6 linked regions of the Homo sapiens genome follow. The protein of the gene in region 3 interacts with the protein of the main gene of each other region in a pairwise test. Each region holds a gene or a part of one and is shown on either strand. Other genes may lie near its edges. The genes, in order: ABI3, FXR2, SNAP23, NAPA, STXBP5L and PHF20L1.

Region 1 (3,500 bases), on a different chromosome or scaffold from region 3:
ACATTTGGCCTGGCCTGTACATCACCCACATGTTCAGTGGGTGGGGTGTGTCTTTTCCTCCCCCGCCGCAGACCAGAGTTCCCACCCTTTCGAACTGTAGGCTTTCTCCATGGAACATTCTGAGAGGAAGTCAATTTACTTATTTGTCCCCCAAAGGGGAGAGCTGATCCAGCCACCATTCTCTGCCACCTCCATATTCTCCCCCTCTGCTCCGAAGTCAGCCGGGTGCTTGTCTCCTCCCAGCATCCCTAGGGATGTTGTGTTTTCTCTTTTCCTCCTGTTCCTGCACAGCTAATAATAACCCATACTCTCTTTCCACCAGGAAGTTGCTCCAAAGTGGCTCCATCCTTTCCTGCTACTTTTCCCAATTGCTATGTAGCCTGGTGGGGGGCGGGGGGCGGGGGGCAGGGCCCTCTTTTTCTAGACCTGGCTGCCTCCCCCCCCCAGCCCAGTCTTTATCTTCTTCCTCCTTAGGGGGAAGGGTGCTGGACACAGACCACCCCTCTCTGTCACCTTGAACCCTGTCATGCAGATGGTGAACATGCATATGGAGAAGGTGGCCCGAAGGGAGATCGGCACCTTAGCCACTGTCCAGCGGCTGCCCCCCGGCCAGAAGGTCATCGCCCCAGAGAACCTACCCCCTCTCACGCCCTACTGCAGGAGACCCCTCAACTTTGGCTGCCTGGACGACATTGGCCATGGGATCAAGGTAGAGAGAGGGGCCCTCCTCTTTCCCTCCAACCCACCCTCTCGTGCCTTGTGGCCCCTTTCCCTCCAGAACCCCAGTTCTGCAAGTTTTGTCCCCACTTGCCACTCCTTTCTTTCCCCGCTCCCTGAAACCACCACTCTGAGCTCTTCTCCCTCTCCCTAGATTTTGTAATCCCTCCCTCCAAAACTGGTCTGTACCATCCTCGGAGGATCTGCTGAGTGTGAGATCCTGAGCACCCCTCGCCCCCCCGCCCTGCCCCTGTGGGCACCGGGCGTGTGGGAAGGGGAAGAGGGGGAAGGGAGGATGTCAGGGTGTGCATGAGAATGGCTCCCAGCCACATGAGAACAGCAACTTCCTCTGTCTGGGGGTTTGAGGTCACTGCACTGAGCAGTCACCCCAGAGCTGCTGTTGGTGAGAAGAAGCGGGGATACAGCCACACAAAGGGGACTTGGTGAAGGGAGGGGAGCATGGCGCTGGCGTCTTCTCAGCCTATGTCCTTCTGCGAGGTCAGAAAGGGCACGCACTCACACCCGTCCCACCTTCAATTCCTGTCTCCACACCTTAACATTTCTGTATCAAAATGAGCCCCTTGATATCCTTAACTTATCAGCCCCCCTTAAAGGGGAAACGACATTCTCCCCTTCAACCACCAGGCCTCCTTCCCACCAGTAGTTCTCTGTTGTCCAACTTATATTTTTTTTTTTTGAGATGGAGTTTCGCTCTTGTTGTCCAGGTTGGAGTGCAATGGCACGATCTTGGCTCACTGCAACTTCCGCCTCCCAGGTTCAAGTGATTCTCCTGCCTCAGCCTCCCAAGTAGCTGGGATTACAGGCGCCCGCCACCATGCCCGGCTAATTTTTTTTTTTTTTTTTTGTATTTTTAGTAGAGATAGGGTTTCTCCATGGTGGCCAGGCTGGTCTTGAACTCCTGAACTCAGGTGATCCTCTTGCCTGAGCCACCCAAAGTTCTGGGATTACAGGTGTGAGCCACCACTCGCGGCCCAACTTATATTCTTTGTGCTTCAGCTCAAATCTCTTTTGTCTTGCCCCTGGTGAAGCCCATGGGGTAACACTGTACCCACCCCTTGGGGAAGTCCCATTGGTAACAGCAGTTCCCTCTTTCATGTAGGCGTGCACCCTGTCATTTGCGCATCCCCTCTAAGTGGCCTGGGTCTTGCTCCTCTCTGCCCTAACTCCCCAAAGCCAGTTCCACAAATCTTCGAAAATGAAAGGTGGGACACTTCTAAGTGTGATGTGTCCTCTCCTTTCTCCGCCCCCTCCTCAGCCCGATCAAAGTTAGGGACCACCAAGCCAGGGCCCCAGCTTCCTGGGCTCTGAGATGGTCTGGGGGAGGGACAGGGGTGCTGGGCCCACTCAACCCGCTGTGGCTGTGCAGAGGAAGTGGCTGTGGGCTTTGGTAGAACTGAGTCCCAGAACCCAGGCAATGACAAGGGGGTGGGGTGGGGGAAGTGTAGGAGAGGGGCCTGAGAAGTGGAAGTGGGAACTGGCTATGCCGGGCTCTCCCTCCCGGTTCCCGTCCGCCCCTCCTCCATTTCCTCTTGGGGATGAGGGTGGAGGGAGGCCCCTCACCCCAAATGTAAGCCCTACCTCCCGCTCCCTCGCAGGACCTCAGCACGCAGCTGTCAAGAACAGGCACCCTGTCTCGAAAGAGCATCAAGGCCCCTGCCACACCCGCCTCCGCCACCTTGGGGTGAGGCCTCGCCGCGACGCCAACTAGCCTAGCCCTGCCCCGCGCGACCCTGAAACTCTCCTCCCCCAGCCTCGCCACCCACCCCTGGCGCCCCCGGGTGCTCAGGCCGTCATGCTGGATGCCTGGCGCCAAACCTCCCCCTCGGCCACCTGCCCTTCCTGCTCGCACCCGACCCCTGCTGGCCAGAAGCCTTCCTCCTTCCTCCTAATACCCACTCCCTGCCCCCCGCCAGGAGACCACCCCGGATTCCCGAGCCAGTGCACCTGCCGGTGGTGCCCGACGGCAGACTCTCCGCCGCCTCCTCTGCGTTTTCCCTGGCCTCGGCCGGGTGAGACCTACAAGCCCACGTGGGTGGGTGGGGGGTGGGAAGTGGCTTTTGAGAGGGGCCACCTGCCAGTGGTCATAGTGACTCCTGGGCTTGAAAGGACCCAGTTACTCCTGGGTCACACGTGCAGGGCTGGGGTCAGGATTGGAGGGGTGGGGCCAGTTGGGGATGCTGCATTAGGGAAGGCGTGTCCGCCAACCGGGCTCTCTGGTGTTCAGCAGCGCCGAAGGTGTCGGTGGGGCCCCCACGCCCAAGGGGCAGGCAGCACCTCCAGCCCCACCTCTCCCCAGCTCCTTGGACCCACCTCCTCCACCAGCAGCCGTCGAGGTGTTCCAGCGGCCTCCCACGCTGGAGGAGTTGTCCCCACCCCCACCGGGTAAGGAGGTCCACCCTCTTCTTCCCAACCGTGGGGTCGCTTTTCTGCCTCCTGCCACTCCCCAGCCCACCTCTCTTGGATCTGCCCCGGCCAGCCTCAGTGAATGCCTCCTCCAAGGAGCGCAGCACAGGGGCGAAAGGAGACAGAGGAAGTGAACTAACATAACTTAGCGCCTGCTGTATACCAGACCCTGTGTTCGAAGATTCTCATCCATTTTCTCATTTGAACTTAATCCTGGCCGGGCGCGGTGGCTCACCCCTGTAATCCCAGCAGTTTGGGTGGCCGAGGCGCGCGGATCACCTGAGGTCGGGAGTTCGAGACCAGCCTGACCAAAATGGAGAAATCCGGTCTCTACTAAAAATACAAAATTGACCGGGCGT
Region 2 (5,177 bases), on a different chromosome or scaffold from region 3:
CATTTGCCAAGGGCATTTTTGGTGTTTTCTCTCCTAAGCTTAGCCTTTGTCCCTAGCAGCAAAGCTCATGAATAGTTCTTGTGTATTAGCCTTTTGAAACCTCTAATTCTTTTATTTTTGTTTATTTATTTTGTTTTTTGAGTCACGGTCTTGCTGTGTTGCCCAAGCTATGGAGTGCAGTGGTGCAATCACAGCTCATCACAGCCTCGACCTCCCTGGCTCAAGTGATCCTCCCACCTTAGCCTCCTAAATAGCTGGGACTACAGGCACAAGCCATCATACCCTGCTAATTTATAAATTTTTTGCAGAGATGAGGTTTCCCTGTGTTGTATGGGCTCTCTAATTTTTTTAAAAAACATCTTTATTGAGCTGAAATTGACATACAACAAAGTAGACATATTTAAAGTGTGCCATTTGTTAAGTTTTGACATGTATGTAACTGAGTCCATCACTGCAATCAAAGGAATGAACATTTCTGTCACTCCCAAAAGTCCTCCATCAACTACCAATCTTCTGTCATTATACATTAAATTGCCCTTCCTGATTTTCGATAGAAATGAAAAGGCAGTTCAATTCAGCTAAGAAAGGATAGTCTTGTCTTTTCTTTTCTTCTTTTCTTCTTTTTTTTTTTTTGAGGCAGAGTTTGCCCTGTTGTCCAGGCTGCAGTGCGATGGCATGATCTTGACTGACTGCAGTCTCTAACTCCTGGCTTCAAGTGATTTTCATGCCTCAGCCACCCTGAATAACTGAGGTTACAGCCATGTGCCACCACGCCTGGCTAATTTATATATTATTATTATTATTATTTTTTTTTTTTTTTAGTAGCAATGGGATTTTGCCATATTGGCCAGACTAGTCTCGAACTCATGGCCTCAGCTGATCTGCCAGCCTCGGCCTCCCAGTGTTGGGATTACAGGCGTGTGCTACCGCCCCTGGCCAGAAAGGATAGTCTTCAACAGACAGTGCTGGAACAAGATATCTTTAGGTAAAAAATGGGCTGGGCACAGTGGTCACACCTGTAATTCCAACATTCTTGGAGGCTAAGGCGGGTGCATTGCTTGAGTCCAGGAGTTCAAGACCAGCCTGGGCAACATAGCGAAACCCTGTCTCTATTAAAAAAAAATTTTAATTTAAAAATATATTAAAAATAAAAAAAAGTGGCCTGGTGCGATGGTTCATACCTGTAATCCCAGCACTTTGGGAGGCTGAGGCGGGTGGATCACCAGAGGTCGGGAGTTTGAGACCAGTCTGACGAACATGGAGAAACCCTGTCTCTCTTAAAAATACAGAATTAGCCAGGGTCGTGGCCCATGCCTGTAATCCCAGCTACTTGGGAGGCTGAGGCAGAATTGCTTGAACCTGGGAGGCGGAGGTTGCGGTGAGCCAAGGTTGCACCATTGCACTCCAGCGTGGGCAACAAGAGCGAAACTCTGTCTCAAAAAAATAAATAAGAATTTAAAAATTTAAAAAACATTGATCAATACCTCACCTTATATATAAAATTTAATTCAAAATGGATCATAGGCTGGGCACAGTGGCTCACATCTTTAATTCCAGCTTTGGGAGGCTGAGGCAGATGGATCACCTGAGGTCAGGAGTTCGAGACCAACCTGGCCAAGATGGTGAAACCCCGTCTCTACTAAAAATATAAAAAATTAGCCTGGTGTGGTGGCGGTTGCCTGTAATCTCAGCTACTCGTGAGGCTGAGGCAGGAGAATTGCTTGAACCCGGGGGGTGGAGGTTGCAGTGGGCCAAGATTGCGCCATTACACTCCAGCCTGGGTGACAGAGTGAGACTCTGTCTAAAAATAAAGGATTATAGATGTAAATGTAAAACAAAAAACTAAAAGTTTAAGAAGAAGACATAAGAGAAAACCTTTGTGGCCTTGGATTAGGCAAAGATTTCTTTTTCTTTTTCTTTTTTTTTTTTTTGAGATGGAGTTTTGCTCTTGTTGCCCAGGCTGGAGTGCAATGGCATGATCTTGGCTCACTGCAACCTCTGACTCTCAGGTTCAAGTGATTCTCTTTCCTCAGCCTCCCAAATAGCTGGGATTACAGACATGCACCACCACACCTGGCTAATTTTTGTATTTTTAGTAGAGACGGGGTTTCACCATGTTGGCAGGCTGGTCTCGAACTCCTGACCTCAGGTGATCTGCCTGCCTCGTCCTCCCAAAGTGCTGGGATTATAGGCGTGAGCCACTGTGCCTGGCCTGGGCAAAGATTTCTTAGATATGAAACCAAAAGCACAGTTGATAAAATAATAAATTCATAAGCTAGACCTTTTTCAAAATTAGAAATCCCTAATTGTATGTGAAAAATAGGGAGAAGGTAGAAAAATTGGGAGCATAGGGGTGAATGCATGGCTTTGGCCTCCTTAGTGAGGACACAGACCACAGGAGGTGGATCAGCTGTTCAGTCATCCCTCTTGCTCTTGTCAAAATATCAAGATTGGAGTCTTCCATAAATTTTATTATCCTTTATAAATTATCAGTGTCATTCTAGATTCAATTCTAGTATTAAAAAACCGATGTTTTTAAATTAAGTCTTAATTTTTCCTTCTGTAAATTGTGTTCATCACAATTTTGAACTTGTCTAGTGTTCCGATTATTGTCTTAGGACCCATGCATCAGGGCAGCGAGTCTGCTCAGATCTCTTGCTGTATTGCGGAGGTAGGCCCTTCTCTCTCGACAGATCCTCATGTCCTCTAGGTGTTCCAGGACAGCCTCACACTGTCTCATGGGATATTCTTAGCCTTGCTGAATGTTGTTGGTATTTTAATTGAACTCTGGCAGGCTGCTTAGCACAACAGGAGGCAGACAGATAGGGAGGCCCCTGTGGGAGCCTGAGTAGATCATTGGTTTCCAGGCTGTTCTGATGCAGGTGGTACATACACCTCTCCATGACAATATCATTTCCTTTCTCTGTTTGACTGCCCATATTCTTTCCCCAGTGCAGCCTTTCAGGCTGTCTCATTACACCACTTGTGTCCCTATCTAAAACTCAAGTTTAAGGTTTTGTGGTGTCTTATTCCCTTGATGGCTAAGGTGGAAGTAAAAGGTCATTTTATTTTTTTTGCTTTTTTCTAAAATCCATTCTAGGGCTTTGTGAAGGATGTCCATGAAGACTCTGTCACCATCTTCTTTGAAAACAAGTAAGACCTTGGGAATAGAGAATCCAGCATACTAGGTCCTAGAAGGAGAGTGGAGAAGAGGGGGCAGCTGAGTCCTATGAGGCATGTAATAGGTTGGGAGAGCTGAGGGTTTGGGTGGGAACTCATATGGATCCCAGGAGAGGAAAGGGCTGAGAATTTGGTGAGGGTGGGGGCATTTGACCCAGTATTTAGAGTCTAGAAAGAGATGGAAGACACTACTATGGAGCAGGGCCTGGGGTTTAGCCTCTAATTATCCAGATAGGTGGAACTCGCCCAGCTGAGGCAATAACCCTTTTGTAAAGAAATGGGCAACCATATCAGTCAGAGTAGCTTTTTCATATTATTGTTTCTATTATAGCTGGCAGAGTGAGAGACAAATTCCTTTTGGGGATGTCCGGCTACCACCTCCAGCTGACTATAATAAGGAGATCACAGAAGGGGATGAAGTGGAGGTAAGGGCTGTGGAGTACACCTTTCTAAATGTCACTTTTCCCCAGGATTCTAGGCTTTTCTCTGGTTGGTTCATGTTCCTTCCTCCCCAACTAAGCCATATCCAGCCATGTAGCCTATGGAAATGTAAAATGCAACAGTTCCCCTTTTATCACTGTTGTGATCAGCCAAACTCTCAGGAACATCCCCAGTTTCAGGCGATTTGCCTTCCATTTATGGTAACAACATCTAAAATCCAGTGCCCTCTGATTTTTTTGTTGTTGTTGTTGTTGTTGTTTTGAGATGGAGTCTTGCTCTGTTGCCCAGGCTGGAGTGCAGTGGCGCGATCTCAGCTAACTGCAACCTCCGCCTCTTGGGTTCAAGCAATTCTTCCACCTCAGCCTCCCAAGTAGCTGGGATTACAAGCACCTGCCATCATGCTCGGGTAATTTTTGCATTTTTGTAAAGACATGGTTTCACCATGTTGGCCAGGCTAGTCTTGAATTTCTGACTTCAGGTGATCCACCCGCCTCAGCTTCCCAAAGTGCTGGGATTACAGGCATGAGCCACCATGCCCTGCCGTCCTCTGATTTTAATTAGTTCCTTCCTCTGGTTTCTTGTATCCTTGGTTTAAGATACATCCCAGGCTGGATGCAGTGGCTCACACCTGAAATCCCAGCACTTTGAGAGGTCGAGTGGGGCAGATCACCTGAGGTCAGGAGTTCAAGACCAGCCTGGCCAACATGATGAAACCCCATCTCTACTAAAAATACAAAAAATTAGCTGGGCGTGGTGGCGGGCGCCTATAATCCCAGCTACTTGGGAGGCTGAGGCAGGAGAATCGCTTGAACCCAGGAAGTGGAGGTTGCAGTGAGCTGAGATTGTGCCATTGCACTCCAGCCTGAGCACCAAGAGCGAAACTCTGTCTCAAAAAAAAAAAAAAAAAGATGCATCCCAAATACCTTTTTTTTCTTTTTGAGATGAAGTCTCACTCTGTTGCCCAAGCTGGAGTGCAGTGGCGCGGTCTCAGCTCACTGCAACCTCCACCTCCTGGTTCAAGTGATTCTCCTGCCTCAGCCTCCTGTGTAGCTTGGAGTACAGGCATGTGGCACCACACCCGGCTAATTTTTGTATTTTTAGTAGAGGTGGGGTTTTACCATGTTGGCCAGGCTGGTCTTGAACTCCTGACTTCAGGTGATCAGCCCACCTCAGCCAAAGTCCTGGGATTATGGGCATAAGCCACCGCGCTTGGCCTCTTTTTTTTTCGTGGAAGTGGGGTCTCACTGTGTTGCCCAGATCGTTCTTGAACTCCTGAGCTCAAGAGATCCTCCCACCTTGGCCTTCCAAAGTGCTGGGATTATAAGCTTGAGCCACTGTGCCCAGCAGCCCCAAATATCTTAATGGTTGTTCTATTGTTTATGTTGCCCAAGCTGGTCTTGAACTCCTGGGCATAAGCAGTCCTTTTGCCTCAGCCTCCCAAAGCGCTGAGATTACAGGTGTGAGCCCCACCATGCCCGGCCTCCTCATCCCTTTCTTGATGCTTTTGGGTGGTCTTCAATATCTCTTTGATTCTCTACTTTTCTTTAGGTTTATTC
Region 3 (5,177 bases):
CATGTAATAGGTGAGTTGATAAATTAAGATGGTTTCAAAATAAGTAATGAGAGTACCCCACCTTCTCCCACCAGCTAAGGTCAGAAGTATGACTGGGCTTAATGAGGAACTCTATTAGATAAATCTAAGTTGTCTCTCCTTCAGGCAGATTAAGCTTTTTGTGTAAATACTGCGTGTTCACTGAAAACTGTGACTTACATTTGACCAATCCTGGGATCAAGTCCAATTTCAATTTGTAGTAATACATGAAAAGGTTAGGAAGTATAGGGAAATGTATATCTGGATGATGGAAAGCAGGATGGAGTTATTTTCTTTTCCTTTCAAAGGAGGAGTATTAACAAAATATATATTTTGTGGTAGGCACATGAGGGATGGCCAAAAGAGTAGAAGAGTTGGGAAAGAATGGCAAAACATAAAAAATACATAAATCTAATGTTAGATTATATGATAGTGAGCAAGGCTAAATCTAATGTTAGATTATATGATAGTGACCAAGGCTAGGTATACAGAACTGATAAAGGTTGGGTTGGAGAGCATCTTATAGAAGAGGTAGGATGTGGATTGGGCTTTGAGTGATAAGAAGGATTTGGATGAACAGGGAGGAACAGTGAGGGCATTTCCTATGAAAGGTTCAAAATAAAGATTAACAAGGAGCTTGACTTAACTGAGCTGTGTGACTCATGTAGATGAGAAGTGGAAAGTAAGATATAAGTAGGTAGTAGAGGAACTTGAATGCCAAACTAAGGAGTTGACAGATTGGAGTGGAGTATAAAAAGAAACGACAGTATCTGGAGATTGAATGACTGTACTCACTGCTGAAAGTTTTGTTTTGTTTTTTTTCTGAGACAGGGTCTCTGTTACTGAGGCTGGAATGCAGTGGCGTGATCACAGCTCACTGCAGCCTCTCTTTCCTGGGCACAAGAGATCCTCCCACCTTGGCCTCCCAAAGTGCTAGGATTACAGGCATGAGCCACTGCACACAGCCAAAGTATCCTTTTTTTTTTGAGACGGAGTCTCACTCTGTTACCAGGCTGGAATGCAGTGGCGCAGTCTCAGCTCACTGCAACCTCCGTCTCCTGGGTTCAAGTGATTTCTCCTGCCTCAGCCTCCCGAGTAGCTGGGACTACAGGCGCATGCCACCACACCCAGCTAATTTTTGTATTTTTAGTAGAGACGGGGTTTCACTATGTTGGCCAGGATGGTCTTGATCTCTTGACCTCATGATCCGCCCGCCTTAACCTCCTCAAGTGCTGGGATTACAGGTGTGAGCCACCACACCCGGCCTCAATGTATTCATTTTTAAAGAGGTTCTTAGACATTAATATTTCATCCAGTTCTCAGCTGGTCTTGTAAACCAACAGCGGTTATATTTTTATATTTTCAGTAAGTGTTTTTATGAAACAACATTTTTATGCCATTTCTGTTATAGAAAGTAGAGATTAATTGCTTGTCAGTCAACTTTAGTGTTTGTTTTGGCCATGAGGAAAGGTTTGACAGTGTTCTTCCTAGTCTTATCCATTGGCTTCCTATTCTAACACAAGTCTGTTGACCTGTTTACACCTTGGTTGACCAACTGAAAGTTCTGTATTTTTTGAGACGGAGTCTCGCTCTGTCACCCAGGCTGGAGTGCAGTGGTGTGATCTCGGCTCACTGCAACTTCCACCTCACGGGTTCAAGTGATTCTCCTGCCTCAGCCTCCCAAGTAGCTGGGATTACAAATATGTGCCACCATACTCAGCTAATTTTTATATTTTTAGTAGAGACAGGGTTTCGCCGTGTTGGCCAGGCTGGTCTCAAACTCCTAACCTCAGGTGATCTGCCCGCCTCTGCCTCCCAAAGTGCGGGGATTACATGCGTGAGCCACTGCTCCCGGCCAAAAGTTCATATTTTAATAACTATGACTTGTCAATCAGAGTTTAGCAGATTACTTTAAGCAAACAAGTTAAAATGTACAGATTATTTGATACAAACTCTTAGCTATGTTTTACAAACATAATTGTACCTTTCTCTTGTGTTCCATGTACCTTCTTGGAAGAGTACAGAAGAGAGGAAGTAGATGAATTTTCTTGAGATCAGATGTTAGGAGAACAAGGAGAAAGAAGTCTCCCCTAAAATCTTAGAGGAAGATCAGCTCTAAGTCACGTGTTGATAAATAGGAAGAGCACTGAATTAGACCTAAGATGGTCTAATATCATAGAAAGTGGGAAATGCAGCTACAGAGTATTAATTTTATGTCTCTTTGTGTATCCCAGCCAAGCATAGGCAAGCTTTTCTTGAAGACTGGTGGGAAACAAGGTAGGGTATGGTCCTGAATCAGCATTCTTCAGCCTCTAACCTCAGTAGAACCCTTTCTCAGTGGATCAAGAGAAGGCATTACTTTTTTAGAGATGGCCTCTCCCTCTGTCTCCCGGGCTTGAATGCAGTGGTGCCACCATAGCTCACTGTAGCCTCAAACATCTGGGCTCAAGCAATCCACCCACATCAGCCTCCCAAGTAGCTAGGATTACAGGTGTGTGCCACCATGCCCAGCTAATTTTTGAAATTTTTTGTAGAGACAGGGGTCTTGCTATGTTGCCCAGGCTTGTATCAAACTCCTGGCCTCAAGAAATCCTCCCACTTCAGCCTCCCAAAGCACTGGGATTACAGGCTTAAGCCACTGCACCCAACTGGCACTTCTTTCTTTTTTTTTTTCTGGCACTTCTTGAGAGATGGAATCAAGGGGCTGCTGTAACAAAACAGTTCCCTTAAGAGAAGAAAGTATTATCTCAGTTAAAGATGTCTGATTGTAATTGTCTTTCTTCCACCTATTTCTTTCTTACACCATTGAGACCTTGGCCAGTATGATATCTCTTATCCTCAGCTCTGTTCCTATCATTCTTGCCTGTGTCTTGATCTTTCTAATCTGCTAGTCTGTGTTTCAGTTAGGCTCGTCACATGAATAACCATAACATGAGCTTCTTAAAGGTAGACATGAGATCTTAGTCCTATGTGTAAGGCCTAGTCTTCATACCAGCAGTAGCAGTAACAACCCAGGTCAGGTCCAGAGTTCCTTATTTGCCATTTGGAAATACTTTTTCTTTTCTTTCTCTTTTTTTTTTTTTTTTTTCTCGAGACAGGGTCTCGCTCTGTTACCCAGGCTGGAGTGCAGTGGCAGTCATGGCTCACTGCAGCCTCAACCTATCCTCCAGCGTCAGCCTCCTGAGTAGCTGGGATTACAGGCACATGCCACCACACCCAGCTAATTTTGTATCTTTTGTAGAGACAAGGTTTCACCATGTTGGCCAGGCTGGTCTTGAACCCTTGGGCTCAGGCAGTCTACCCACCTTGGCCTCCAGAAGTGCTGGGATTGCAGGCATGAGCCATTAAGCCCTGCTGGCCATTCAGAAATCTAAAAAACTCCTAAAGTTTTGTTTTATTTTTGCTGTAATGGTGCCACAACTCATTAGGGTATAAAATGTAACCTGAACTGAAGCTATGTTTAGTCTTTATTACTTGCTGTAGATATTAATTGGTTTCACTACAGAAATACTCTTTTTGAGTCAGGGTCTCACTCTGTCACCCAGGTTGGAGTACAGTGGTATGATCTTGGCTCACTGCAGCCTCGACCTCCTAGGTTCAAGTGATCCCCCCACCTCAGCCTCATGAGTAGCTGGGACTACAGGTGCATGTCACCATGCCTGGTTTGTTTTTAAAAACTTTTGTTTCTTCTTCTTTTTTTTTTTTTTTTTGAGACGGAGTCTCACTCTGTTGCCCAGGCTAGAGTGCAGTGATGCAGTCTCAGTTCACTGCAACCTCTGCCTCCTAGGTTCAACCGATTCTCCTGCCTCAGCCTCCCAAATAGCTGGGATTACTGGTGCCTGCCACCACGCCCAGCTAATTTTTGTATTTTTAGTAGAGATGGGGGTTCACCATGTTGGCCAGGCTGGTCTTGAACTCCTGACCTCAGGTGATCCGCCTGCCTCGGCCTCCCAAAGTGCTGGGATTACAAGCATGAGCCACCATGCCTGACCCTGTTTCTTTTCTTTTCTTTTTCTTTTTTTTTTTTGAGACAGAGTTTTACGTTGTCACCCAGACTGGAGTGCAGTGGTACAATCTCGGCTCACTGCAACCTTCGCTTCCTGGGTTCAATCGATTCTCATGCCTCAACCACCCAAGTAGCTGGGATTAGAGGCATGCACCAACACCTTGCTAACTAATGTATTTTTAGTAGAGACGGGGTTTTGCCATGTTGGCCAGGATGGTCTTGAACTCCTGACCTCAAGTGATCCACCCACCTCGGCCTCCCAACGTGCTGGGGTTACAGGCATGAGCCACCGTACCTGGACTTTAAAAAGTTTTTGTAGAGATGAGTTCTCACTATGTTGCTCAGGCTGGTCTCAAACTCCTAAGCTCAAGCAATCCTCCCACATTGGCCTCCCAAAGTGCTGGTATTACAGAAATGAGCCACCACACGCAACGTCACTACAGAAATATTAATGTATTTAATTATGTGGTACTGTCCAAAACATCTTGCCCCCAATGGATTGGGGTAACAGTTGTGGGCCTGTGCATTAATTTAAGGTACTATTCTGAACATGTTAATTTAATCCTTAAACAGTAGCCTTAATATGAGATAGATGTTTTTTATTATTATCATTTTACATCCAGGCTACACTATGTAGTGGAAGAGCTGGGATTCAAAACCAGGCAGAACCCCCTTGCTTTTTTTTTTTTTTTTTTTTTTTTGAGACAGAGTCTTGCTGTATCACCAGGCTGGAGTACAGTGGTGTGATCTCAGCTCACTGCAACCCCTGCCTCCCAGGTTCAAGTGATTCTGCTGCCTCAGCCTCCCGAGTAGCTGGGATTACAGGCGTGCACCACCACGCCTGGCTAATTTTTGTATTTTTAGTAGAGATGAGGTTTCACCATGTTGGTCAGGCTGGTCTCGAACTCCTGACCACGTGATCCATCCACCTCGGCCTCCCAAAGTGCTGGGATTACAGGCGTGAGCCACCGCGCACAGCCCACAAATCCTTTTTTAAAATCACATATCTTAGGCAGTAATTGATAAATTGTAATTCTAATTAACAAGAATTTGAAAGCAGACAGATTTAAAATGGGAAGTCTCAGAATAGTAAACTGCTTGATGTCCCAGTTTAAACATTCTTTTTTTTTATTTTTATTTTTTTGAGATGGTG
Region 4 (5,177 bases), on a different chromosome or scaffold from region 3:
TGTGTGTGTAGTGTGTGTGGGGTGTGTGGGGTGGTGTGTGTGTAGCGTGTGGTGTGATGTGTGTGGTGTGGTGTGATGTGTGTGGTGTGGTGTGTGTAGTGTATGTTTGGTGTGTGTGGTGTGGTGTGATGTGTGTGGTGTGGTGTGTGTAGTGTATGTTTGGTGTGTGTGGTGTGGTGTGGTGTGTGTAGTGTGTGTGTGTGTGTCCACCTAGCCATCCTGAGCTCCAGCACTCCCCGAGTTGTACTTTCTTCATCTGGAAAATGGAGACTCAAATGGCCAAACAAAACAAAACAAAACAAAACAAAACAAAGACACCCTCTGAGAACTACTGGACAAGTCTTGGCGATTGTCCCACCTGGAGCCCCAGCCACCCCCGTCTGAGGTTCGGGAAGGGGGAGGCCGGAGCACCCAGCACTTACTTTCATCAACTTGCATTCCCGGGAATCAGAGAAAGCTGGGAACAGCTCCTCATACTTTTGGACAGCCAGCTGGGCAGCAGGGAAGGGAGAAGATGAGTTAGTAACAAGAGGGTCCTCAGAGCTACTGGCCTAGCAGCTGAGGGGACTTGGGGATGTCGGGTGATATTGAGTCAGCTCTTGCACCCCTCCCCCAGCCTCAGGTGTCACCTGGCTCTGTGTCTGTCAGTACCTTCCCGTAGCTGAGCTCAGCACCAGCCTGGCTGCAGAGATGGCTGCAGGGAGAGGTGGGTGGAGGGGGAAGGTTCCCCAGATAGGCACCCACTGCCTCCTCCCACCTGGCTCAGCTGGGGCAGGGGACAAATGAGCACATCCTCCATGCCAGGCCTGGGGCTGGTGCTTCTTGAGGACCCTGAGAGGGTCAAATGACGGTGAGCCCCCTTTTCAAAGTGAGGAAACAGATCCAGAGAGGGGCAGTGACCTGCCCAGGGCACGGTGAGACATGGGGTGGGAATGGGAACCTGGTCTGACAAAGCCCAAGCTTTTGCCCACCACCGGTGCCCACAGCAGGGCAGGGCTCTGTGGGGTGTGTGTGTGTGGGGTGTGTGGGGCCACCACCCCAGGCCGTGAGCCAGGGACACCAGGAAATCCTGGACTCCGTGCTTCTGCCAGGCAATGGTAAAAAAACTCCGGCCAAGCAAAATCTAGCGCCAACCCTCCAGCTCCTTCCCGCTGGCCACGCCCCCTCCCACTGCCCTCTTTGGCCCCTCTTTTGCCAAGTGTCCTGAAAATAGGTGGGCATGTGTGAGCTACAGCTAAAGCCACGACAGCAGGAGTCACAAAGATCTGGAACACTGGGGCTGCAGGTCCCTAGTCATGTGGCCTCAAACAAGGGACTCTCGTCCCAGCCTCACCATCTTCACCCATAAGACGCGGTGACAATGGTGCTGACTTTAATGGGGTGCAGTGAGGATTCAAAAAGTGCACCCATGAAGGAAAGAGCACTAAGTGAGGCAGGAGCTGGACCCGCAAAAGCCTCCAGGGCTGGGTGGGCAGGTGATGCCAGCACAGAAACACAGCTGTGAGAACCACACTTCTCATCCAAAGGCTGGCTGGCAGGGGCCAGACGTGAGGGAGGAGCACGTCCCTCTTCGGGGGCAACGGGACCTGGCCTGGAGATAAGCACATGGTGGCCTGGTGCGGTGGTCCTGCGGGCGTGGGGTGTGCTACCTTGGCGTTGAGCATGTCGATGCAGAAGTGGCAGAGGGCCGCCTTGAAGAAGTAGTCTTTGGCGCTGTACTTGAGGAGGGGGCTGTCCATGGCATTGGTCCCCACCTGTAGCCATGGAGAAGTGGCACTGGTGAGCTCAGGGCAAGCAGCCAGAGGGCCAGAGCCACTGCCAGGCACTGGGGGGCCAGCTGGGAGCTGGTTCATGTCCCGAGGTGAGGCCCTGTTAACCCAGGACCCCAAGGGCAGGGAGCCAGGGACCAGCTTGGAGAGGTCAGCGGCCAGTGCGTGAGCGACCAAGATCAGGGTGTGATGGTGGCTGGGTGGGGGTGGAGGCTGTAGCCAGGTGTTCGTGGGCCTTCTGAGAGCCTGAGACAGTGGGAAGGAGGCAGCCTGGCTGTCAGGACCAACGGGAGGCTGGCATGGCGGTGGGCAGAGCGGCGGCAGGCGGTGGGAACATGAGAGGCGGCGCCCGCCCCTCTCTCCCAGGGGGCCAGCTGCCTGCCTTTTTCTCGGCCATCACCCAGGGCTCCGTGCACGCTGGGGGGACCCCATGTGACACTCCCTCCCTCCCACTGTGGATGAGGACCATCGGGCCATGGGGTGGGGTGCCCACGGCCACCCTGGGCCTCTTGGCACTTCTTCCCATTCCCTCCCTCTGGGTTCTTTAGCCAGCCTCACTCTGGGCCCCTCCAGGAAGCTCTGCGAGGGGTGTGGGAGGGGCACAGCCAGGGAGAGAGACGGTGCTGGCACGGCATGGAGTCGTAGGTGGAGAACATTCAGCCAGGCTGAAGACAGGGTGGGGGGATGACATGGCAAGGGATGTCGGGGGAGAGGCAGAGGGTGAGCCGGGGGAGGGGTGGTTCCAGAACAAGGTGCCGGGGCTTAGGAGGAGGCACAGGCCCTGAGAGGGGGCAGGGTGGAAGCCGCCATCCCCACCTGTCCCCACCTGTTCGTAGATGTCAATGGCCTTCTGATACTGCTCCAGCAGCGCAGCGTAACCAGCCACCTTCAGCAGACACTTGTTGGCTGAGCTGTGTGGGGAGGAGTAGTGAGGGGAAGTGGTGGCGGTCCCTGCGGGGCTGGGGCAGGCAGGAAGGGGGCTACCTGTTGGACTCCTCGCCTTTGTAGTAGTCTGCAGACTGCTCGTAGTGGGCAATGGCCTGGGGAGACACGGGGGATGGGTTCCAGGGGAGGGCAGGGAAGGGAGAGGAGGCCTCCGTGAAGCTTCCACACCCTCCGCCCTGCCTGCCTGGGACACAGCCAGACCCCATTCTCCAAGCTCTGCCGGCGCCCCATGCCCCCTTCTCGGCACTCAGACACCAGAGGACTCCCCTGGTGGGAAGAAGAGAGAGCAGCACTGGTCCTGGCTGCCAGCCCATGCAGGGCCCTGCTGCCACTCACCTTCTCGATGTCCACCAACTCTGTCTCATAGATCTCAGCAATGGAGATGTGGTGCTTGGCCGCAATCGTGAATCGGCCCTGGAGGGGACACAGGAAGGGGCTGCCTGCGACTCATGACCTCCTGCGTGCCTGCCTGCTGACCTATGACCCTTCAAGTTCCCACCCCTCAGCCACGCCTGTGAGGAGGTATGAAGAAGACCTGAGGTGTGAAGAAGATCGAGAGGTGGGGGAACACAGGAGTGAGAAGGGAGGGCCCCAGCACTAGAGGCCTGGCTATGCGTGCTGGGCTGAGCGGGTGATGTTGGACAAGCCACTCCAGGGCCTTAGCCTAATTCCATCCCATCCACGAGGGCACAGATGGTGTGACACCAGAGAGAATGTGAGCACGAGCACTTGGCCAAGGCCCTGGCCCTTAGGAAGCCTCTGATAACAGCCAGAGAGGCGGAAGGACCAGTCCAGAGCCACTTGGCAAAGGGCTCTGGAGAAACCAGGATGGGAGGGAGGGCTTGAGACCTCTGCCCAAGAGTACCAGCTCTGCCCCCAGGCCAACACCTATCTGTCAGCCTCCCCCAGGCACACCCAGAGCTCCCCAGGGAGGCCTCAGGTTCCAAGGGGCCTCGCACCTTCCATCCGCCTCCACCCAGTGTCCAGGCGCTTGCCTAACTGCTCTGCACCAGGGGCTGGTCCAACGCCACCCCCTTGCTGAGGGCAGTAGGAAAGGGCAAGGCCCTGGGCTCAGCCAGACCTTGTTTCGGGTCTCAGTGACTCCTGCTTGTAGCCACATGTCCCTGGGCAAATCATGTCACTTGTCTGAGCCCCTCTCCTCCACTAAGGAACGGGGATGACAATAATGCCAACCTCACAGGGCTGTGGATTAAACCACCCTGCAGTGTCTGGCCTAATAAATGGCAGCTGCTATTATTGTTCTAATCACAGTCATCCCTGCAGCACTGCCCTGAACGCAAGGGGTAGGGCTCGTGTCCCTGCCTGGGGTTGGAGGGCTGAGACAGACAGGGCAAGCGGAGAGGCAAAAAGGAGCTGGCCAGGCACGGTGGCTCATGCCTGCAATCCCAGCACTTTGGGAGGCCAAGGCAGGTGGATCACTTGAGGTCAGGAGTCTGAGACCAGCCTGGCCAACATGGTGAAACCACATCTCTACTGAAAATACAAAAATTAGCCAGGCATGGTAGCACACGCCTGTAATCCCAGCTACTCGAGAGGCTAGGGCACGAGAATCGCTTGAACCTGGGAGGCAGAGGTTGCAGTGAGTGGAGATCACGCCACTGAACTCCAGCCTAGATGAGAGAGAAACTCTGTCTCAAAAAAAAAAAAAAAAAAAAAAAGAGAGAGAGAGAAAGCACTGACAGGAGCCCCGGCCTGGGTGGGACCCTTCACTCTGGCTCCAGTTGGCAGCTGCCCATCTGGTCTGCATCTGTCGTTGGCAACGCGCCCTGGGGGCAGGGCAGGTGCTGAGCCTCCTGTGGGCTCTGCCTATCCCTGTGGCCTGCTGCAAGATGCTTATCAAATGTGACACTTGCGGGAAGGCTGGGCAAGGGGAAGTGCCGGACACACACTCTCCAGTAACCTAATTTCTTTTTTTGTTTTGAGACAGGGTCTTGTTTTGTCGCCTACGCTGGAGTGCAGTGGTGTGATCACAGCTCACTGCAGCCTCAACTTCCTGGACTCAAGCGATTTTCCTGCCTCAACCTCCCAAGAACTAGGACCCCAGGTGCATGCCACTACACCAGGCTAATTTGTTGTAGAGAGGAGGTCTTGCTATGTTGCCCAGGCTGGTCTCGAACTCCTGTGCCCAAAAGATCCTCCCACCTCAGCCTCCCAACATGCCAGGATTACAGGCATGAGCCACCCTGCCCAGCTCAATAACCTAAGTTCTATGAATGAAAACCATGACTGCCTGTGGAGTGAGGGGGCCGTCAGGCTGGTGGGGAGCTGGGTGAAGACCCAGCCAGCCCAGGCCAGCTCAGGTGACCTAATCCCCCCAGCTCCCACTTCCCCCTCCCCAAGTGGTTTGGCCGCAGAATAAGAACAGTGCTGGGGGTGCTGAAAGAGGGGACGCAAGGCTGGGGCAATGCAGTGGGACCCGGGGGTGTCAGGACAAGCAAGCAG
Region 5 (5,177 bases), on a different chromosome or scaffold from region 3:
AAGAAAACATTTTATGTAATTATACTTTGATATTGAACTTCTAATGAATATGCAAAAGAGAGTTTCTGGTAGGTAGAGAAGATGAGAGTTTATAAAACAAGCATTAGGTTAATGCATAGAGATATTGTTATTGCTATATTTGTTATATTTTATGACATAAAGTGATTTATAATTTTATTGCCCTTTTTTGAGTTGTCTTGGAATGTGCCTATTATATGCAACAAAGGCTACTAAGTTATTTATGTCATATAAATGAATATAGTTTTGTAAATGTGTTTGGCTACATAAGAAATAGAAAAATTGCAAAATTACAGAAATTAACAATTTTTAAAAATACTTTCACAAAAGAAAAGTTTTTTGAAATTATTAAAATTATATTTGTGGTAAACAAGTGATATATGTATAATGAGGTATATTTCAATCACTGTCTCAGCCTATATTCCTAGCAGGGTCATTATAAAAACATTAAATCTATAGTTATTAGTTTACATAAAAGCAAGTTTATTTAGAGTTAATTTAGATAAACAGATTTAATTCTAAGCTACTTTGTGAAATTTGTGTACAGTAATAATTTTTTTCCTCAATAGGAAATAACAGATATTCTGTTCGATGAGGGAAGGTCTTAACAGTGGTTATGAGACAAATGTAAAAGAGTCCTGGAGTTCAAATTTGAACTGCTAGGCAGGGGAATTATGCCCTGATTCTCTAATCTTTGATGTGTTTGCAATTTTCACGATCAGATTCTGAAAATTTTTTCCAAATTCTCTCAATTCATGTATATGACAGTGATACAGGAGAATTTTACCAGAGGTAAAACTGGTATAGGAAAGATAGACTTCTGAAACAGAATGGCATTGGGCTGTTGAGGTCATAAAGCTTGTAGAGAAGGTTTTAAATAAAAAACTTCAGGGAAATGGGTGAATGCAAGAGATAATGGAATACATAGTTATCTTCCCATTTATTCAGGCAAGAGATAGTCATAGGAAGTACCAGAAGTTAAATACATACTACTTTAAAAACATATGGCATGGTAGGAAGAGCACTGGCCTAGGAATCAGAAAATTTGTGTTTTATTTAAAGTTCTGCTAGTTGACAGCCATATACTCTTGGGTAAGCCATTTATCTCCCTTGAGCCTTGATTTCTGCATCTGCAGTGTAGGAATAAGTGTATCTGCTCTCCTTAACTAAGAGACGGTTATTGGGAGGATCAGACAGAATAAGGTGAAGGTAATGCATAAATGGAAAGGATGATAAAATATATACGAATATTATTGTTAAAGTTTGTAAAATCACGTGTTCATAGTAGAGCGAATATAACTAGTGGGTTATAATAATATTAGCTTATGATTTCCAAATAAATTATAAGATAGATAGCTATATAAGTTGTCCACTAACAGTACTGAAGTCTTACTAAATGTGGAAAATACTGTAACATCTTTGGATAGGAATATAGTTAATTTTAAAAAATAGTTATATGGATGTATTATAATTACCTGGTCTATAACAAAACATATAAAAATGGACTAAGGAAATCCCAAAATTAGACCGTTACTGAAATGGGGACTTTATTTAGACTCATAGACTCCCTGATTAAATGTGCAAAAAAATTTCTCTTCTGAGTTCTAAGGAGCTGTCATATTCTGGGTGCTTCTACCTTTTCAACATGGGCAAAACTAAAGTATAAATCTAGACTTGGCTGTTTGAAAGCCTCCTCTCTTCTATCTGATTAGTCATCACATCCCCTCTATTCTATTTCCTTAGTATTTCTGAAATTTATGACCTTTTCTACATCCCCAGTACTTGTTCGTTCCGTCATATTTTCTTGCTTGGTCTTTTGAAATCACTTTCTAACTGATCTCTTTACTTCTAGTTTTACTGGATTACACTTCATTTTGTTACAATAATGGCTATTTCTGAAATACAATGTTAATTATGTCATTTCCTTGCTAAAAATTCTATATTGGTTTCCTACAGCAATGATGCTCTTAAAATGAAAGTCTTATTTGAAACCACAGTAAATAACATCTATTCAAACAAAAAAATGTGGCAACTCATGGGCACACATTTGTTTCAGAAATTATAAGAATAAATTATACAGCCAATTGATAAAAAAACTTTTTATATTTGTTTTTTATTGTGTAATATCGCCCATAGGAAGGTAGTAGGATGTTCGCTAGCCTTAAAAAAGTGAAAGTATAAAGCTGTACCCTTCATAATAAACAAAATATCTATGAGATGTTCAAAGTCATAGAAATGGCAGAAGAAACTTTGGTTCAAGGTCAGCCAAAAAAAAAAAAAAGTTAATGCATTGGGTTACTGCAATCGTTCAGAATGTGTATACATTGGAATGCCTGCATTGTCCAGGTATTTGTGAAATACATGAACTGCCTTTCCTGAACTTGAATTCTGTGAAATACAATTTGAAACTATTGCTCTATAAAATAAATTTCAAATTGCTTACCTTGATGGGTATAGAGTTTCCTTCAGAAGAGATTCCTGTTTACCTTTCCATTTTTATTTGCTTGATTCCCTAAGTATACTGCATTCCCTAAAAGATACCATATTTTCTCATATCTCAATGCCTTCTCTCATTCTTTCGTTTCTGACTAGAATACCTTTTCTACTTTCATACGATTGGATAATTCCCAGCCATCTTTTACCTCATAATTCAAACATCACCTCTATGAGACTAGCTCTGACCACTGCCACCTCAACTACCCACCAGGGTTCTTTTTTTTCTTTTTTAAAAACCTATTCTATGTTTTTCTGTAGCATCTGGCATATACCTATAGTGTGAATTTAGCATCTTCCTGTGATTAAAAAAGTTTCTTAAAAATCTGTCACTGCCGTTATACTATGAACTCTTTGAAAAGCAAATAATTTTTTTTTCTTGTTTCCTTCTTATTGCTAGGGTATACACTATCTAGCTGGCCAGTATTTCTTAACTCTGGTGTCTAAAATAGAGATTTCCAGCACCTCCCCATTCTTAGAGAATCAAAATCTCTAGGGATGAGTCCTAGGCACTTGCATTTTTTTGAATGGCCCCACAGGAGATTTCTATGCACAGCCATTAGTGAAAACCATTATAGTGGGCACTTGATACACTTTAAATGAGTAAAGATGCATATACATGATTGGTCGATTAATTGAAAAAGATATTAAAGCAGAGAGCAATTACTACTTATATATGCCTTAAACATTTTATTTTAATTGAAAACATCTAAATATACAATTTACAAATCATTTGATAAATGACTACGTTTTTCTGTTGAATGTTGGTTCTGTGATTGGAGTTCTGTGTGGACTTCTCTTCCATAAACCTTTCCAAATTCATATCTACAACTTTCAGTTTTGGTTTATTTAAAGCAGAGTAAGAAATTACATGCTTTTGAAGCAAACCAAGTGTCAAGTCCTTCTAGATTATATATACAGTGATATGTATAAAGCAAGGCTTTATTTTGTTCACATCTGTATCATCTATGTATAGAATGGTGCCTGGCCCATTGAAGGCAGTCAAATATTTGTTGAGCAAATAAATGAATAAATTAAAGGAGGGAAGCTATACAGATTGTTGTGTTAAAAGCAAACTAGATATTATTTTGAACAGCTTCTTGGAGTTGCTTTTATGAAATAACTTTTATATAAAGAGGTGGAGAGCATCTAGTGAAAGAGTTGATACCACTTTAGGAACATGGTATATGCTTTTCAAACAGATGTAGAAAAGAAGATTGTAGGAGGATTTAATTAAATTTATTTCAGTTTTTATTGAAGAAGATATTAGGAACATTCTCATTTTTAAATGATCTTTTTGGGGGAACAACTCAGAAGTTCTAGATTGACAGTGACAAACACACAGGGTGTTCTAGACCTAATTAACAAAAGATAAAAATAAGTATATTACCAAAAAAAGAGTAAAATAAGTATATTACCAGAACCAGATGACATAATCCCTAAATTTCTGAATAAACTCTTAAATTAGCCAACTCACTATTCATAATCATTTATAAACTGTTTTTATAAATGGTCACAATGTCAGAAACAACATGTAGTTAACTAGTATAACTTCTGCAGGGAAATGGATTTATAACAATGATGCTCATATCTGACATAATATCAGATCGTACCAGGTAAATAGGTATAGATCAGAAATACAGGCATGAACTGTAGAGAGTTGGGCTTTCCAGGACCCTAGCAAGATGAAAGGAGATTAAATGCCCAGATATCCTTGAATACTATCTCTTCCTCAAGATTTTCATTGTCTCCACATTCTCCTAATTTCACTCCATTTTACTTAAGCGGTTTTGCAACTGAGATTGGGAAAAGATCATGATCACAGTTCCACAGTTATAAAGTTTTCATCCATAAAAAGAATAATAGAAGATTCCCTGAGATGTGTGGATTTGTTACATTCTCCTGTCACCAAAAAGCACAGTAGAGGCATCTTTAAGAATGGTAATGGAGGCAAGGAAGAATTAATCTACCATTAAGACTAAGATGCTAACAAGCGTAATAACCAGAAAGAATTAAAGATTTTTTTTTCTTTTAAGAACCAGAAACCAAAGCCAGATGACTCAGTACTCCAGGCTGTCTGCTTTGCTTATCCTGAGAGCATAAGGGTGTAGGGGCAGGCTTGAGTAAAGGATTATAGATGTGTAGAAGTACGTTTGTAAAATTTTAAAGTTACCTAGAGGGCAATCACATTTTCTCACAAAAAGTCCTTTGGTGCTAGTATTTGTCAGCAAATTGGGTTGTTGGTCTTGTATAGTGTGGTGGTTCTTAAATGTTCTTAAAAACAAACAGTGCCGTCATACTTTTTGTATTTCTCATACATACAGAGCTAAGTTAAAATCTTAACATAATTTCCAAGTATGTTTTTCTGTAGGAGTATTATCACTAAGTAAACGAAATTTCTGTTTCTTAAAATTTAGTGCATTTCTGTAGATATTTCTCTAGCCTCATTTGACGATGTTCCTGTGAAAAATCTCAGGATTAAGTTCATATTTACTTTTAATAATAGGATGATTGTACTGATTTCCTGTATTATAGTTCTGTAAAGCCACTTACATATTGGTTTAATAGCAATGACTTTTGACTATATCCATTAAAAGTATCAAGTAGAAGCCCTGCTTTAAACTTTCAAATTGAGTTTGTTTTTCTCATAAGAGAAAAATGGAACT
Region 6 (5,177 bases), on a different chromosome or scaffold from region 3:
GGAGAAGAATCCAGCTGAAGGGAATACAGTATTTGTTTATAATGATAAAAAGGGCACCGAAGACCCAGGAGACTCACATCTTCAGTGGCAGCTCAATCTCCTTACACACATAGAAAATGTGCAGAACGAAGTTACCAGCAGGATGGACCTAATAGAAAAAGAAGTCGATGGTAATTTAAGAAAGAACTAAAATACAGTTACTATAGTGAATTTATTGTTACTATGAAGAAGTTACTTAAAATTCTTAAATTATGGGATGAAAACTGCAGATACTCTCCATACCGATGGGGCTTTATTACTCCCTTTGTATTGTATTTAACACATTTGGGATCTTTTACGCTTAAAACAATGTGACCGGGTATGACCTTAGGTTGTTTTTACTTTTTTAAGGTGGATATTTATTAAATACTGTCTATTTGCCAGGCTCCAGATAGATCACTTATGGAATAAATTGATTAGTTTCATTGAACTAAGCTTTCTTTGGAAGTCAACATAAGGAATTTAAGCATGTTTGAAATGTGAAAACATTTTGAATATTTTTTACTTTGGTTAGCACTTGTTAAATTAACAAAAACTTCTACAAAGTTAAGTAGGTAAACCTTAAGTGGTTTTCTTTTATATTTTAAAATTGTGTCATCACACAGGAGGCCTGAAAAGTGGGCAAGAAAGATACTATCACTACTTTATAGTTGAGAAACTAGAGTAACTTAGACTACCTGATTCTCAGTCCATGTTGTTCTTAATGCTTTCTGACTCCTGTTTCTTCCTAACATCATAGACGATATTCTGCACCCCAACTTTACTTTTTTTAATTTGGCATAAGCACGTGATACCTCTCCTCTACACTAAGTTAGAGCTCCTACTCCTTTTTTTCCCCCTTGAGAGAAGAAGAGAGAAAATGGAAACCCATTTTAGAAGCCTCTTCCATCTGGGTATAAGCTAACTGTAGAGTTAATGTGATGTTTTGAGTCCATGTTTGAAGAAAAGAAAATGCATCTTGATACTATTTCATATTATTAGGGTAGATTTCCAAAGGAAACATTAATAAAAACTATAGAATATAATCAATTGCATTCTGCCTACAATTTTAATACGCTTGCATGTCTTTTAAAAAGTAGTGTTAAAATAGTGGAACTGAAAAGAACACTGAGAAATTGCTACTTCCTTTTCTTTGTTAAGAAGAGCTTCTGGATTAAAAAATATGATTAGGTATGTTTTATGTAGAGATGACGAGTCTAAATTAATAGAAAGCTTGAGCAAACATAGGGAACTGTTGTTATCTTATTCCAGAAGTGAGTAAAAGGAGACCTTCAAAATGAAGTTAGTGTGTGTATATGTTTATGTGTGTGTGTATATGTATTTTCCCCCTTATATATAAAAATACATAATTCCTATATATATAAAGGGGAAAATTATCTTAAATGACAGATAAAAATTGCCAAGAGGGACTAGAACTCTGTGGGGTGGGATGACAGGACGCTAACCTCTCGGAAATGTCTTGAGTATGTTGGCCTTCTAAAGATGGGGAAGTGAACCCTTAACTCCATCACAGCTCCAACTTTCTGATTGTTTCATTTTCTGACTGTTCTTCCAGTTGCAGTTTAAATTTGTTTATCTTCTTCTCTCTTTTAGTTCTGGAAAGCTGGCTTGATTTCACAGGGGAGTTGGAGCCACCAGATCCTCTTGCAAGATTGCCCCAACTTAAACGCCACATAAAACAGCTCCTAATTGACATGGGCAAAGTACAGCAGATAGCAACTCTTTGCTCTGTATGACAACAGTGAACACTTAATGAAAGAATGTGGCTTTCTTCAGTCAAAGCATTTTTATTATCCACGTGATGGCTAAGTGGATAATTTAAAAGCTTAGTAATGTCTGGTCATTCACTGATTTGTGATGTCAATAGGATGGCACCTTGGAAAGAAAAATGAAGAACAACTTTATCAAGGAAGCTAGTATTTAAAAACAAATTCATGAGCAAGCTGCAAATGAGAATGTGTTATATGCCAAGGAACAATGAAGTAGAATATAATGTATACTAAGGGATTTCAAGTTCTCAGAATTTTTGAGTAGTTGCTTACGTGAAGCTCAAGATACCTGTAGAAAGAAATATGGTATATTTGTATAGTTTTTAATAGAAAGATCTATGTTTATAAACCAGCACTTGGCCAAAAACAAAATTGTAAAGGAAATTTAAATTCTGGAGAATTCTACAGGGTTGCTCTAAGAACTGTCTTCTCAGCAGTTGATCCAGCTGTACGGAAATTTAGGGTATTTAAACTTTTAAAGGATCATGAGCTGTTTCTTGGGCGATGAATGTTCTCAATCAGAAAACTGACAGTAGAAATCTCACTTCTGGGGAAAACAGTTGTGGAATTCTTACTTCATTATGAATGTATTTAAAAAACAAACACCAAATAATTGGAATATATTGCAGGCATTAAGCTCATTAAAAACAAACTGGCTTGCAGAAGGGTCCGATGTGCCAAGTGATCATGATTCTGCTGGAAAGAGGATTTTAAATATTGTGGGAGTTCTCCCACCCTAAGTCTTACATAATGCCACCAGTCCATCCAAAACCTATATATCACCTATACTATATATATCATATATATAGTTGAATGGCAGTATTCAGGCTCAACGTACAGTTTGATCCTGAGTATGCTTGGTGTTTGCCTTCAGAAAAAAAAAAATACATTGTAAATAACCTCAGCTGGGATGAGGAGTGACAGAATATCAAAATAATTTGTGGCTGTGGATTTTTTTAACTGCTAGTAGTGGAATACTGGAAAAGCTTCATTTCTGAAGATGAATTTTATTTTTAAAAAATACATGCACACTCAAAACTTTTAGCTTTGATCACAAGTGGACAAATTTCTGAAACCAAAGGCAACTAAGTTGCTGTGTTAGCTCTTGCTGGATTTTGAGCCTAGGTCCTACTGTCTGCCAGTACTCATGTGAGTTGTATGTGCCCCCAGTGCTACATACGCAGGTATGCGTAAGTGTGTATGCTTGTTTTAAACAAACACTCAACGTACATATGTACATAATCTACACATATTTATATCACATATCTAGTTTTATTACTATAGACTATACGAATTGGTGGTTAACATGAAATGTTACCTTTTAACAGACTGTTTTTAAAAATTAAAAATGTATGTATAGGTTTTGAAATTTTTTTAAAAGGGGAGAAAGACTGTTAAGAGGAGGCTATTTGATGACATAACACTTGAATATTTTATGCCTCATTCTGTTTATCAGTTCTCGCAATCTGTATAAATGCATTTTAGAACTGATAGACAGTAAACTTGAATTTATCTTTGATAAGAATACATGCCACTGTACATTCAGATATTATTTAAATTTGCAAACACATTGTTCTATATGTAAGGGTACTGTATGTAAAACTCTGTATTAAAACTATTCCACATATCCTAAAATTTCAGCTTGCCTTTTTGCGGCCTTATATTTTGATGTAAAGATTAAAAGAATGTGCAAAACAGTCAGAAATTTTTATTGCCTTTTGAGATTCTCCAACTTGACAAATGTGCCAAAGATCAACAGACAGAAAATATCATCCTGTGTATTTACTTGTCATACTTTAACTTTGTGAAAGATCTTACTGATAAATGAAAAGCTTTAGCAGAGGTGGTATTGTGGGGTAATTGCTTAAATTTACATATCAAAGTAAAAAAGTAGTGCCTGTATTCCATGTGTGGAGTAAATTTGCTAATGTCTATATTTTATGATTGATACTATTATTTTTCCTTTGCATTTTAAAATAGTGGCTCTAATATTTTCCCTGTCATGGCTACATTCTAGACATTGAATTTATATCTTCTTTTTTTCAGATACGGAGCAAATAGCATCCTTAACCTATGAATAATGGTGTTGCCTAGATTCTTGTCACACACACAGAAGACCCTTTGTACCTAGTAACATTCATCCTCTTGATTCCTGGTGAACACGGTTAAATTCATGCACATTTGTTCTTGTAGTTTCTAAAAATTAGATCAATTTATTTGTTAGCCAGCAAATTGAAAATTCCATTATTAGATTAATGAAATTTTTGCTCTGCTTATATGTATACGAACTGGAAATCTGAATTTTTAAATTTAGATCTTTAAATCAAATTATTTTTATGCATATTTTCATTTAATATAGAGTATACCAATCGATTGAAGCCTTTCACAAGTAGTGCGCTGAGCTTTTCTTATTGAAGAGAGTGAATTAGTTTCTGAGAAGTCAGTCTATTGTGAAAAGTTTCAGATGAGATTATTTTCTTTTAGTCTTTTTAAATATCACTATATGTATTTAAATAGAAGCAATAAACTAGAGAGAGTGTTTCTTGAAAAGACAATGTTTTATTTGCCACCAGGCAGAACAGAATGAGCATTGGTAGAGAAGGCTCCCTCTTGGTATGTTACTGATAAACTTGTACTTCCTCATACTTGTTTGTGGTTCTACTGACTTATTTCCAAACTTAAGAGTAATGTACTTCGAAAACAACTTGGTTATTCTTTAAATTTCAGGTAAAACCCCTTTTCCTAACACTCATCTTATTTCCACTGTCTTATTTCCTCTCAGATGTTCATATTTCACATGTTCAAAATGAAGCGTACTATTTCCCCTCCAATAAACGAAGTCTCCTGCCAACTTCACTGTCTCTGTTAATAACGTTACCCTAAGAGTTCAGGCTTCAAACACCGAGTCCTCCCTCATATCCATATCATTAAAACAGATAATATTGTCTTCTTACTTCTGAATCCTACTGAAGGTCCAACATTTTTTATAAAATAATGTCATGAAGATACTACCACTGGCCTCTGAAACTGTAACTTTGCCTTTATTCTAATTCATCACAATTGTCACTGCCACACTGTTCCATCCATTGCACATGTTCCATGCATTGTACATGTTACCTGCAGTATCTAATTTGTTCATAAAATAAGGTAAAATGATCATTTTCTAGATGAGGCTGAGGGATAGAGACATTTAGAAACTTATCCTGGATAAGACATAAGGGGGCAGGTTCAGGATTCAAATCCTGTGCTATTCAAGTTCATAGTCTTTCCAGCATATGTGCTTCAACTATTCTTGTCATTTCAGTTTTCTGCTCTGGAATGTCTAGTGACTCCCTGTTTCAAACCATGTCAGGTCTTTGTAATCTGGAT

Evidence for each region.
Region 1: the proteins of SNAP23 (region 3) and ABI3 interact in a two-hybrid assay, tested with the Homo sapiens proteins (one large-scale study listed by BioGRID and IntAct).
Region 2: the proteins of SNAP23 (region 3) and FXR2 interact in a two-hybrid assay, tested with the Homo sapiens proteins (one large-scale study listed by BioGRID and IntAct).
Region 4: the proteins of SNAP23 (region 3) and NAPA interact in binary tests that used the Homo sapiens proteins (3 or more experiments, as listed by UniProt).
Region 5: the proteins of SNAP23 (region 3) and STXBP5L interact in a two-hybrid assay, tested with the Homo sapiens proteins (one study listed by IntAct).
Region 6: the proteins of SNAP23 (region 3) and PHF20L1 interact in a two-hybrid assay, tested with the Homo sapiens proteins (one study listed by IntAct).

What each region holds. Positions count from the first base shown.
Region 1 is NC_000017.11:49,217,207-49,220,706, forward strand, and holds part of ABI3 (ABI gene family member 3), read left to right. Parts: intron 1-532; coding exon 533-709; intron 710-2,333; coding exon 2,334-2,419; intron 2,420-2,651; coding exon 2,652-2,747; intron 2,748-2,962; coding exon 2,963-3,120; intron 3,121-3,500. UniProt on the Homo sapiens protein: May inhibit tumor metastasis. In vitro, reduces cell motility.
Region 2 is NC_000017.11:7,604,073-7,609,249, reverse strand, and holds part of FXR2 (RNA-binding protein FXR2), read left to right. Parts: intron 1-3,100; coding exon 3,101-3,153; intron 3,154-3,511; coding exon 3,512-3,605; intron 3,606-5,169; coding exon 5,170-5,177. UniProt on the Homo sapiens protein: mRNA-binding protein that acts as a regulator of mRNAs translation and/or stability, and which is required for adult hippocampal neurogenesis. Specifically binds to AU-rich elements (AREs) in the 3'-UTR of target mRNAs.
Region 3 is NC_000015.10:42,515,345-42,520,521, forward strand, and holds part of SNAP23 (synaptosomal-associated protein 23), read left to right. Parts: coding exon 1-10; intron 11-5,177. UniProt on the Homo sapiens protein: Essential component of the high affinity receptor for the general membrane fusion machinery and an important regulator of transport vesicle docking and fusion.
Region 4 is NC_000019.10:47,490,366-47,495,542, forward strand, and holds part of NAPA (alpha-soluble NSF attachment protein), read right to left. Parts: intron 4,780-5,177; exon of another isoform or gene 4,663-4,779; intron 3,237-4,662; exon of another isoform or gene 3,129-3,236; coding exon 3,051-3,128; intron 2,810-3,050; coding exon 2,754-2,809; intron 2,681-2,753; coding exon 2,596-2,680; intron 1,755-2,595; coding exon 1,650-1,754; intron 492-1,649; coding exon 423-491; intron 1-422. UniProt on the Homo sapiens protein: Required for vesicular transport between the endoplasmic reticulum and the Golgi apparatus. Together with GNA12 promotes CDH5 localization to plasma membrane.
Region 5 is NC_000003.12:120,910,339-120,915,515, forward strand, and holds part of STXBP5L (syntaxin-binding protein 5-like), read left to right. Parts: intron 1-5,177. UniProt on the Homo sapiens protein: Plays a role in vesicle trafficking and exocytosis inhibition.
Region 6 is NC_000008.11:132,844,149-132,849,325, forward strand, and holds the end of PHF20L1 (PHD finger protein 20-like protein 1), read left to right. Parts: intron 1-4; coding exon of another isoform or gene 5-7; coding exon 8-170; intron 171-1,632; coding exon 1,633-1,775; 3' UTR 1,776-4,659; downstream 4,660-5,177.